Linked DNA regions of Homo sapiens. Each later gene encodes a partner of the first gene's protein in a complex. Each region holds a gene or a part of one and is shown on either strand. Other genes may lie near its edges.

What was found. Proteins that work in one complex are often made in the same cells at the same time.
Region 2: the proteins of RAB9A (region 1) and NDE1 are in contact, whole or in part, in a crystal structure (PDB 7E1T), measured with the Homo sapiens proteins. Residues at the interface, in NP_001182257.1 of Homo sapiens: Ile40, Val42, Phe44, Asn46, Gln59, Trp61, Arg68, Phe69, Ser71, Leu72, Pro75, Phe76; in NP_001137451.1 of Homo sapiens: Asp99, Gln102, Thr103, Ala105, Ile106, Gln109, Leu110, Tyr113.

Annotation. Positions count from the first base shown.
Region 1 is NC_000023.11:13,692,123-13,699,162, forward strand, and holds part of RAB9A (ras-related protein Rab-9A), read left to right. Parts: intron 1-7,040. UniProt on the Homo sapiens protein: The small GTPases Rab are key regulators of intracellular membrane trafficking, from the formation of transport vesicles to their fusion with membranes.
Region 2 is NC_000016.10:15,723,205-15,726,853, reverse strand, and holds the end of NDE1 (nuclear distribution protein nudE homolog 1), read right to left. Parts: intron 2,694-3,649; coding exon of another isoform or gene 2,664-2,693; coding exon 2,603-2,663; coding exon of another isoform or gene 2,445-2,602; 3' UTR 2,208-2,444; coding exon of another isoform or gene 2,055-2,207; 3' UTR 1,967-2,054; coding exon of another isoform or gene 1,862-1,966; 3' UTR 501-1,861; downstream 1-500. Other genes in the region: MYH11 (myosin-11), read left to right, coding at 1-6, 1,862-1,966, 2,055-2,207, 2,445-2,693. UniProt on the Homo sapiens protein: Required for centrosome duplication and formation and function of the mitotic spindle. Essential for the development of the cerebral cortex.

The DNA of each region.
Region 1 (7,040 bases):
TGAGACCCCCGTCTCTACAAAAAATAAATTAAAAAAAAAATTAGCCTAGCTCAGTGTGGTGGTGCATGTCCCAGCTACTCTGGAGGCTGAGGCAGAAGGACGACTTGAGCCCTGGAGTTCAAGGCTGCAGTGAGTCATGATCACACCACTGCATTCCAGCCTGGGCGATAGAGTGAGACCTTGTCGCTAAAAAAATAACAATAATTAAAGAAAACAACTCCACACTCGGCACAGAAGTACCTGTGTCATGGTGTTTACTGTGGGCAGACTTAAATAAAATGGGGAAAACTTGATGTGTGTGTTATAGTTTTGTACGGTTAACCACGTGTGAATATTTACAAGAATCAAATTGAGAAGCCATTCTTGTTGAGCATAAAATTCATCCTTAAATTTCACCTCACCAGACAAATAGTTATGCCTGCATTTTATCACTGGAATCGAGAAAGAAATGATGAATTTTTTAATGGCTTTTCCATAACTTTCTGGTGTTTTCTGGTCTCTTTTTCATGCCTGTCTAAGATCAGGCCTTTCAAAATATGTACTGCTTCATTCTGGTGGCAGTATTAACTGTTAGGTGAACTTTGGGAGGGAGTGGTTGACTGGAGCAGTCAAAAAGGATCGCATCTCTTTTTAGGCATCACTGAGTGTTATTCACGCAATCAACATGGCATCTTTTTGTCGGTAGCTTTGGTTTTTGACTCATGCCAATGCACAGCACGTTCTTTGCTGATGAATAGATTTCTCTGCCTCTTATCAGGAGTTGTCTGCTGTGGGGTAGGGAGGATGTTGAGTTACACACCTCAAAATGATTGCTAGTGCATACACATGGAATCTAACAAAAGTGACGTGTTTTATTCTGGGAAAGGTCGAGATAAATTGGTGCTAGAGTTGTCTTGTTTGATCATTAATTGGCTTGCTCCTCCAGCCAACTTAGGTCACCACATTTCCTTCTGGGTAAAATGAGATGGCTGTGCTTCATAATCTCTAGGAGATTATATGTCACAAAGTAGAGGCAGCAAATTATTAGCTTCCAAGTAGTTCTGCCCAGGCAATGTGTTAAGCAGCAGGAGGAGGAAGTAAGCCAAATGGAAGTGTGTGTGTGTTTGGGCAACGCATCTAACTTGAAAGGTGTATAGATAATAGACTCTTCAGTCAGAACCAAGCATAAGAGAATAGGATTTGTGACTAAGTAGGCCATCAACAGAGAACATTTATTAAGGACTTTTTTGTAGAGGAGTGAGGGTGAACTCAAAAAATGTTTCAGGGAGTTTGGTGGAAAGCTATGATGCAATTGGAAGGCGAGGATGCCTGAGGGAGGAGACGTGGAGCCACCTAGGTGTGTAGGCAGAGGGGAGGGAGGTCGGAGGCGGTCCCAGGCCGTGTTGCCAGAGAGCCCAGGGGTGCCAGGGCTAGTTAGATAACTTGGAGGAGAAATCTCTGTTTCTCACCATGACTCTTGGTACTGTGCATGTTGTGAAGCTGTGTGCTCTGGGTATTTCCACATTCTGGATTTTTCAAATCCTTTTGTTAATTTTTGACCATGGTGAGTTCAGGCGTTGTTATTATGTTGCTTATTATGAATACAGTGAGGATGACTAGGTGTAAATGAATGTAAGGTAACAGCTAGATCTGCCTGAGGTGGAGAGAGACTGGGTGTGTATTTTGGAAAAAAAATGGAGAAGTGAAACAGGCTGTTCAGGCTTCACATTCTGGCTGCATGGAAGCCAGCTCATTGCATTCTCCAGGAGTTCTCTGGGAGTCTGTGGACACAGACTCCACTTTTGTCTTAGGCCTGACTCGTACAAACATATTCTGTTGTTTGACAGGGGATGGAGAAACACTATAGAACAACTGGACACATTCATTTCATTGCCACATTCTTTATTCAAGTGTGACAGAGAGCAAAACAGTATAAAGGAGTTGAACTGACTACTGTATTTTAATTTCAAGTTCCTGTGAATTGGATTAGATTTTTGGGTACAGAAGCTAAGGTAATTTCCAAAAGGTTAGTGCCCATAAGACTGTCTATGTTCTCAGAGTTAGAAAAACCTGGGAAAAAAAAAAGCCTTACAGACCTCTGTTTCTACAACTTGCTGTGCAGAACTCTAACAGATAGGAGTGTTTATGCAGCTAGGTGACTGCTCTGGTCTGTGCAGTTTCACACCTGTGTATTTGATCAGATGTATATACCTGGAAATACATACATAATGTGGTTGGAAGTCAGATTAGAACTGCCTGAGGACTACCCATTGGTGAATGCAGAACATTCTTTGGAATGAGTGCTAGTATTCTTAAATAACATTTAAAAATAGTTGTTTGGGAGCAAACAGTTGCCACCCTCATAATCCACTTTAATTTGTGCCCAGTACTTGATTTTTATCACAGCAGTCCTGGAAAACCTAGCTTCATGAAGATATGATGTCATCGAAAGGAATGCAGTGCAATCTAATTAACTCCCCTCCAGTGGGGTGCCCTACAAATGTCAAGTATCTATGTTTCCCTCAGAAATTTAAAATAGCCCACCCTGCCCTTGTGAATTTGCCGTGATGCTTTGGGGCACCTCAGCATGCAGTTTGGGAACCTCAGGATTAGAAGTTGGTATTATTGGCTCTAGTTTATGGACTACAAGGTATAGTGGTGAGGAGAAAAGGCATCAAAGTCCGTTTTTAATTCTCCATCCCCCCTTCCAGTATCTGTAAGCTTTTCCCTTGGGCCCCTCATTTCCCCCAGAGCTTTGCAGTTTTGGGATGCTACCCTTTTAGTTGCTAAGCTGAGGGGAGGGACAGACAGGAAAGAGACTGCAGTTCAGGTTTCCTGTGCAAATCGTCCCTCCAGCTCCACTTTCCTTTGTGCTTTCTCTCCATTTTCTGCTGGGTGCAATTCCTTAGGAAGTGGGTCTGCTAGGGTAGCACAGGGATGTGGGTCATGGAATCTACAGCCTTTCAGGGACCCCTCGAGCCTCCGGACCCGGCCTGTCTGGAGAAGTCTCGAGAAGTGCCCGTGTGCTGTTCAGTTCTTTTCCAGTTCTCTGGTGGGAATCAGCTTTCTCATTGTTGGCTGCTGCTTTCCGCATTAGGTTTCATTGTCTCTTCACTCTGTCACTCCCGGACCATTTGCTTTCCACTTTCTAAATTTTGTTGCTGTCTTGCATCTACAGTTGTTCTTTCTTGGTGTCCTTTTTGGATTTGTACCTTACGTAGACCTTTTCTGTCACTGGGTGGGAGTGAAGATAACACATACTTGACCTGCCCTATTTAGTTAGACCTGGGGAAGTTTGTGGACTTCTGTTTATTGATCTATAAAACATGGATGATAGTGTCCAACTTGCAGGTAATTTTAAGGTGCTATATGCCAGGTACCTAGTAGATATTCAGTTAATAGTGGCTGCTAATATAATTACAGCCATAGCATTTATTATTTGAGCAAGCAAGGCAATAGCAATAGGTAGTGCGAAAAGTGGACATATTTCATGTGTGGCTGAATGAAGTGCGTAAGAGAAAAGAAAGAGATTTTCGAAATGGAGAAAATAATTAGCTCAGTTTTAGATATGTTGAATTTGAACTACCATCAGGGTACCAGATGAACATACTATACAAGGGGTTGCAAATTCTTGTCTGGCTCAGACATGCGGATGTAGACTTTAGGAATCACTGGTTTTTATAGCCCAGGGAGATACCATCTGGAAACAGGTAAGGGTTTCAGTCTCGTGAAATAGCTTCATGAAGAGCTTGTCAGGAAAGGGAGCTGTCTATGTTGAAGAAAGCTAAGGGGCCAAGGAGGAGAGAAAGCAGAACCTATTATCAGAGTGGTTTTATGGACAATTAGGAAACATTTTCAAGAGGATTACTGCCAGGCTGTTTGGACCTGATAGAAGCAGTAATGGGTGGTAAGTCCTGGCTCAGACTTGAAGGTCTCCCCTGTGCCTCTAGCTAGATGTGTGATCCTGTGTAAGACACTTTCCCAGTTAGACCTGTTTCCTTATTTGTTTTTAAAAAACACTTGAGGCCAGGCACGGTGGCTCACACCTGTAATCCTAGCACTTTGGGAGGCCAAGGAGGGAGGCTTGCTTGAGCCCAGGAGTTCAAGACCAGCCTGGGCAAGATGGTGAAACCTTGTCATTACAAAAAAAAAAAAAAAATTAAAAAAAAAATTAGCCAGTCTTGGTGGTATGCACCTGTAGTCCCAGCTACTCTGGAGGCTGAAATGGGAGGATCACTTGAGCCCGGGAGTTTGAGGCTGCAGTGAGCTATGATCATGCCACTGCCCTCCAGCCTGGGTGGTAGAGAAAGACTCTGTCTTTTAAAAAAAGAAAAAAGACTTGGGTACCCTTCCAAGATTTTAGTTCATGCACATTCAGACAGATGGCTACACCTGAGAGAATTCACTATATACTAGCTGGGCCTCAGGTGGAGATGCTGGTCAAACTTGCAGGTGTTTTCTAGAAACATACACAATGAAGTCCTGAGAGAAGAACTTTTCCCTGTATTCACCTTAGGGTTGTATGTGCCGTAGGGCATTCAGATGAGGACTGAGAAAAAGCCATTGGATTGGCCATTAGGAGGTCTTTGGTGACTTTTGCTGACAATCAGGGGGAAAGGATGGGGTGGGAGCCCTGGTGTCCTATAAACTGAGCAGAGAGTTAATCAGGTTTGCAGGCACATTGAGAAATGGGTAGTGATGGGCAGAGTGAGGTTGGGCTTGGAAAGCTTTTTGTGAGAAAAGTCAGTTTCAACACTTCGATAGGGGCAGACCTGGGGGGATCATTGACAAAGTGACAGTTACATTGGATAAACTGAACTTGATGAAGAGCTGCCTGCAGTGTTGAGCTGGTGACAACTTCCCTGCAGAGTGGTATTTGGGAGCCTCTAGTCTAGTCGAGTCCTATATACCGGACATAGCTGCCCCTCTTTAAATATATCTTCTTAGGAAATCCTCACTCCTTGTAATTAACTTCTCTAACAGTCGAGAAGTTTCCTTTTGCTGTGGCTCCATGCCTTGTGGAGCCCCTCACTCAGTGAGTTTGTATAGTTCCCCAACCCCTAGCTTTGTCTGCTGTAAATTAAAGACATTTGGTTTCTTATCGAACTGGAAGGGAGGCCTCAGAACCAATGTTTCTTTAGGTGATAGCAGAACGTTGCAGATCATTTTTGATTTGTGTTTTGCTGCTTTAATATATTTTTCTGACATATATGTTCAAATTCATTCCTTTCATAATTTGTTTTTCTTCCTGAAATATCTACCTTTAATTCCCCATGTTCTCATCTTGTGACTTTTATCTATGTCTTTGCATTTTAATTCTGTCTTCCAAAGTGCACTCTATTGTCAAAAAGTATTGTAAGTACCTTTTACAGGTAAGTGTCATCGCAGGTAGATTTATGCTTGGTTCTTAAAACTTAAGCAAAACAAAAAAAAATTATTCTCACTTCTCAGGACTAGCAGTTTCCCATGAGTAAGGCTGTTCACTGAACTATCACAGTTTATGGTCAAAGTGTGATATTCATAAAAGTCTCATGGGTGAGGGAGAAAAAGAGGAAATTCTGCTAAAGACAGAAACTCTTGAAGGGTGTTATGAGCTACAGAAATGGATCACACATAACATACAAATGATGCAGGCATGTAGCAATCAGTTCTTGGTGTCCAAACTCCTTAAGATCTGATGAAACATTTTTTGTTCTTTCCAGAAAAAAAGCGCAAGCACACAAGCTTCCACCAATGCTCTCATCCTTATTTCACATGTGATTCTAGGGAGTGTATTTTCTCCCTGAAGCTCATTTCATGGACTCCCAATTAACCACACTCTAGGCCTGCACTGTCCAACACAGTTCCCACTAGCCTCATGTAGCAATTTAAACTAGTTAAAATTAAATGAAAAATTCAGTTCTTCAGTTAGACCAGCTACTTTCCAGTGCTCAGTAGCCACATGTGATTAGTGGCTACCATATTGGACAGTGCAGATTATAGAACATTGTCGTCATTGCAGAAGGGTCTGTTGGATTTTGCTGCACTATATAGTTTCATGATGGTTTAAGATTTAGTTCCTTAACTAAGTCTTCTTTTTCTTTTTTTTCTTTTTTTTTTTTTTTTTTTTTTTGGCCCTTCTCACTTCCTCCTTTCCCACTCCCCCCACCACTGTTAGTGATTAGTTAACATACCTACAGAGGTGCCTTGTTTTAAGAAAAATGTTAACATATTTCTTAAAAGTTAAGTTAGCTGATTCAGCTTCAAAAAAAGTTACTTAATTGAAATAAGTTCTTTCAATAGGGGAGGTGCTCTGACATAGCGATAGTATGGTTTGATAATACAGTTTTTCTCCTCTAGCTGCCTCCTGTTCTTGAGGTAATGCTCAGTGATTAACTAGATAGGACTAGATAATTTATTTCACCTTGGCAGGTCTTGCCTCCAAGTTGGCCTATTCCTATGGTATTTCCTTTTCTTTCTTTTGCTTCTTCCTGCACACTAAGTATGGTATTTTCTGACAGTATTTTTCTTAATTCTTTATTTATTTTTCTTGGTAATTTCTTGCTGTAGAGCTGGTACCCATTAGACATAATGACTTTCCTTGACTTGCTTCTTGCTCATAAATTTCTGTAAGACAATCAGGAAGTTTTTAGAAACAAACAGTGGAACCAATTAGGCTGTTAAGTGAGACACGCCTAAATTAAGCTATGAGGAAATAAATACAGCTCCAGCAAAAATAGAAATAATTTTCAGATTATCCATGCTTTTGTTTCCCTGGTTTTCTTTGAACCTCATTTCCTCAAGCTATGAAGTGAAATGAAGTGGTAAGTACACCTCTAAGTAGGACATTCAGGGTGAATCCAAAGGAACTTGTGAATTTGACCAAAAAAAAAAAAAAAATCTGTTCCTAAATTTAAACCAGGAGTGATAAATTCATTTTAAGTTTTTGGAGGGGTTACAGAGTATGTGTTTTAAAATCTCAAGTTTTGAGAAGGCAGTTTACAAATGATGCCTGCTCTCCCTTTGGCAGCTTATTAAGGAATGTAGTCGTTTTTCAGCATTTGCCAGCTCCCTGTCGCAGT
Region 2 (3,649 bases), on another chromosome or scaffold:
CTGCAGGTGAGGAGGTGGCGCGGTGGTGTGGTGGGCAGTGCTGGGTGGTGCCCAGTTCTGTGGGGAGGAGCCTCTTCCCGGCTCGCTGAGGTCTCTCTTGCTGCAAGGCAAGTCCTTTCCTCTAGTTGCGTTCCTGGAGGAGAGGCGATGATCTCCCTGTTCAATTAAATATTAAAAAAACCTTCTGGCCAGGCACGGTGGCTCATGCCTGTAATCCCAGCACTTTGGGAGACAGAGGTGGGTGGATCACCTGAGGTCAGGGGTTTGAGACCAGTCTGGCCAACATGGTGAAAAGTCTCTACTAAAAATACAAAAATTAGCCAGGCGTGGTCGTGGGCACCTGTAGTCCCATCTACTCGGGAGGCTGAGGCAGGAGAATAGCTTGAACCCAGGAGGCAGAGGTTGCAGTGTGCGGAGACCGCACCATTGTACTCCAGCCTGGGCTAAAAGGGCAAAACTCTGTCTCAGGAAAAAAAAAAAAAAAGAAAAAAAACCCTTCCTTTTCCAATTTGATAAGTATTTATTGAGCACCTGCTGTATGCCAGGCACTGTGCTTAATCCTGAGATCCAACAGCAAGGAAGAAGAGACACTGTCGCTGCCCCAGTAGGACTCCAGCCGAGTAAGGGGAAGGGAAGGGAAGGGAAAGACATGAATAATCACACAAATGAATGTCAAATGATGCAGCAAAGGGAAGGCACATGATGCCCAAGTGTAAATAACCAGGGGGCCTAACCTGGGGGAGGAGGAGCCACGAAAGGCTTCCCTAAGGAGCATGGATAAGTCTACCAGGCAGAGGGAACAGCGTGTGCAAAGGCCCTGTGGTAAGTAGAAAAATTAGGAGAGAGACATACAGCCAGTAGAGCTGGAGTGCCCAGCTGGGGTTGGGGGTAGGGGGAGATAGTACAGAGTGGGGTTGGAGGGGGAGCTTGTACCCAGATGATGTAGGGCTTTTGAGAACCTATTACATGTATGTTGATCCTTACTCTGGGCAATGTGAAGCTGTTGAGGGGTTTTAAGCTGCTGAATGACATGGTCTTTTTGTCTTTGGTCTTCTTTCACTTGGCATAGCCATTTACCCTGCCTTGCCACTCATGGGGACGTGGCCAAAGTTTTCACAAATGTTTAACATGTCCACAGCCAGGGACCAAGGGGCGAGGGAAGAATTAAGTGAGATGTTTTTTTCTCACATGCAGTTGAGAGCAGGGCTTTTGCCGCCCTCATATAAGCAGTGTCAAGATCATTCATATCCTCCTTGTCAATGGAAGAGATGGAGGGGTAGGCTAACAGCCTCAAAGGGACTTATGCAGAGACACTAGGGAGTAAAAGCCAGAGAATACAGAGAGGACGTTTTTACCTTTAGGGCCTGCGTCTCTGGCTTTGGCCATCAGGGTCAAAGAGTAGGAGTGAGGAAGGAAGGGATGGGACAGCATCCCTGGGACGTTCAAGTACCATCCTGGTCTCCCTTCTCCAGCCTTAGAGAGTGGACCAGCCAGAGCACCTCGTCTGGACTCTCAGACCTGCTGCTTTGTCTCTACCAACCTTGGCAGGGATCTAGGATCCATTTAGTGGGATCAGGTCCCAGTCAATACCATTGGGGCTCAAATAAGTTCTTAGAACCACAGAGTCTAGGGCCAGGGTCCCAACTCATAGGTGACGGAGTTCCCTTCAAGCCACAGATTCTGTTTTTTTTGTGTGTGTGTGTGTTTTTTTTTTTTTTTATCAGAGTCCCATACCTCACGGGTATTTTCTCAATCAGTGAACACCTCAAGTACTAGCCCATGTGTTTTGAGTAAAAAGGGCTCCTTTCAACGAGGATCCCCTTCTAGAGGCTTTGACTAACCAGTCTCTTGGCACCCTTAGAATGAAGTTGAGAGCGTCACAGGGATGCTTAACGAGGCCGAGGGGAAGGCCATTAAGCTGGCCAAGGACGTGGCGTCCCTCAGTTCCCAGCTCCAGGACACCCAGGTGAGTGTCCTGCCACATCATCCAGGGGACCTGGGGGGTGGCCTTCCTCGGGGCAGGTCCCTGGGACCTCTTTGCATCCCTTTTGCAGGAGCTGCTTCAAGAAGAAACCCGGCAGAAGCTCAACGTGTCTACGAAGCTGCGCCAGCTGGAGGAGGAGCGGAACAGCCTGCAAGACCAGCTGGACGAGGAGATGGAGGCCAAGCAGAACCTGGAGCGCCACATCTCCACTCTCAACATCCAGGTGCCTGCCCCGTGTCCTTGCTTCCTTCATGGGTCCTCTCAACTTCTCTGCGCTGAGATCCCCCGCAGGCAGATCGCGGTGGAGTGTTGGTGCGATGGTGCTTGACCCCCCAGCTTCCCCTGCTATTGGGTTTCTCCAACGAGGAGACATGGTCTTCGCTTCTCAGAGTCTGTGGGGCCAGGGACAGGGGCCACTCATGGTCCCCCTCTCACCCTACCCTGGACGCTGTCCTTGTAGCTCTCCGACTCGAAGAAGAAGCTGCAGGACTTTGCCAGCACCGTGGAAGCTCTGGAAGAGGGGAAGAAGAGGTTCCAGAAGGAGATCGAGAACCTCACCCAGCAGTACGAGGAGAAGGCGGCCGCTTATGATAAACTGGAAAAGACCAAGAACAGGCTTCAGCAGGAGCTGGACGACCTGGTTGTTGATTTGGACAACCAGCGGCAACTCGTGTCCAACCTGGAAAAGAAGCAGAGGAAATTTGATCAGGTAGAGGGCGTGGGGTGTCCCCCACTCTGGCCATGGACGCTGGGTTGGGGAATCAGCTCTGCAGAGTATGACGCGTGGCTCTGGCCTGTGCCTGCATCCCCTCTCCACTCTGTGGGGAGCCATGGGAGGCTGTCTTATCTTGTCTTGGGCGACCATGGAGCATTAACGCTACCAGGTCACAGTAAGGATGGCAAAGAAGCCTTGATGACTGTGACTTTTCTGGGTACCAGCACCATGAGGGTCACCTGCACACATGGTGATGCCTTAGTTTCTAGCCTGAAGAAGGAATGAGGTGCTTATTTATTCACTAAATGTATTTACTGAATACCTATTGAGTAGTATTCCAAGTAATTCAGTTTCTATACTTTTAATACCACTCTTCCCTAAGATTTCATTCTGTAAAATTCCAAGTACACAGCAAAGTTGACAGAATTGTACGGTGAACACCTTTAAGGCCACCACCTGGATTCAGTCATTGACACTGTATTATATGAACTTTATCAGATACTTATTTTGAGACAGGATCTAGCTCTGTCACCCAGGCTGGAGTGCAGTGGTGTGATCTCAGCTCCCCGCAACCTCCACCACTGGGTTCAAGCGATTCTCCTGCTTCAGCCTTTCATGTAGCCGGGATTATAGGAGCACACCACTATGTCTGGCTAATTTTTGTATTTTTAGTAGAGATGGGGTTTTGCCATGTTGTCCAGGCTGGTCTCCAACTCCTGGCCTCACATGATCTGCCTGCCTTGGCCTCCCAAAGTGCTGGGATTATAGGTATGAGCCACTATGCCCGGCCCACATATTTATTTATAAAGACTAATTCTATCTATCATGCCTTATCTCTTGGGTACATTTCAGAGCAAATTACAGATGTCAGTACATTTCCCCTTCCACACCTCAACATTGCATATTAATTAGAGTTTATTTTTAAACACAATTTTGCTTCTTTTGGGGTA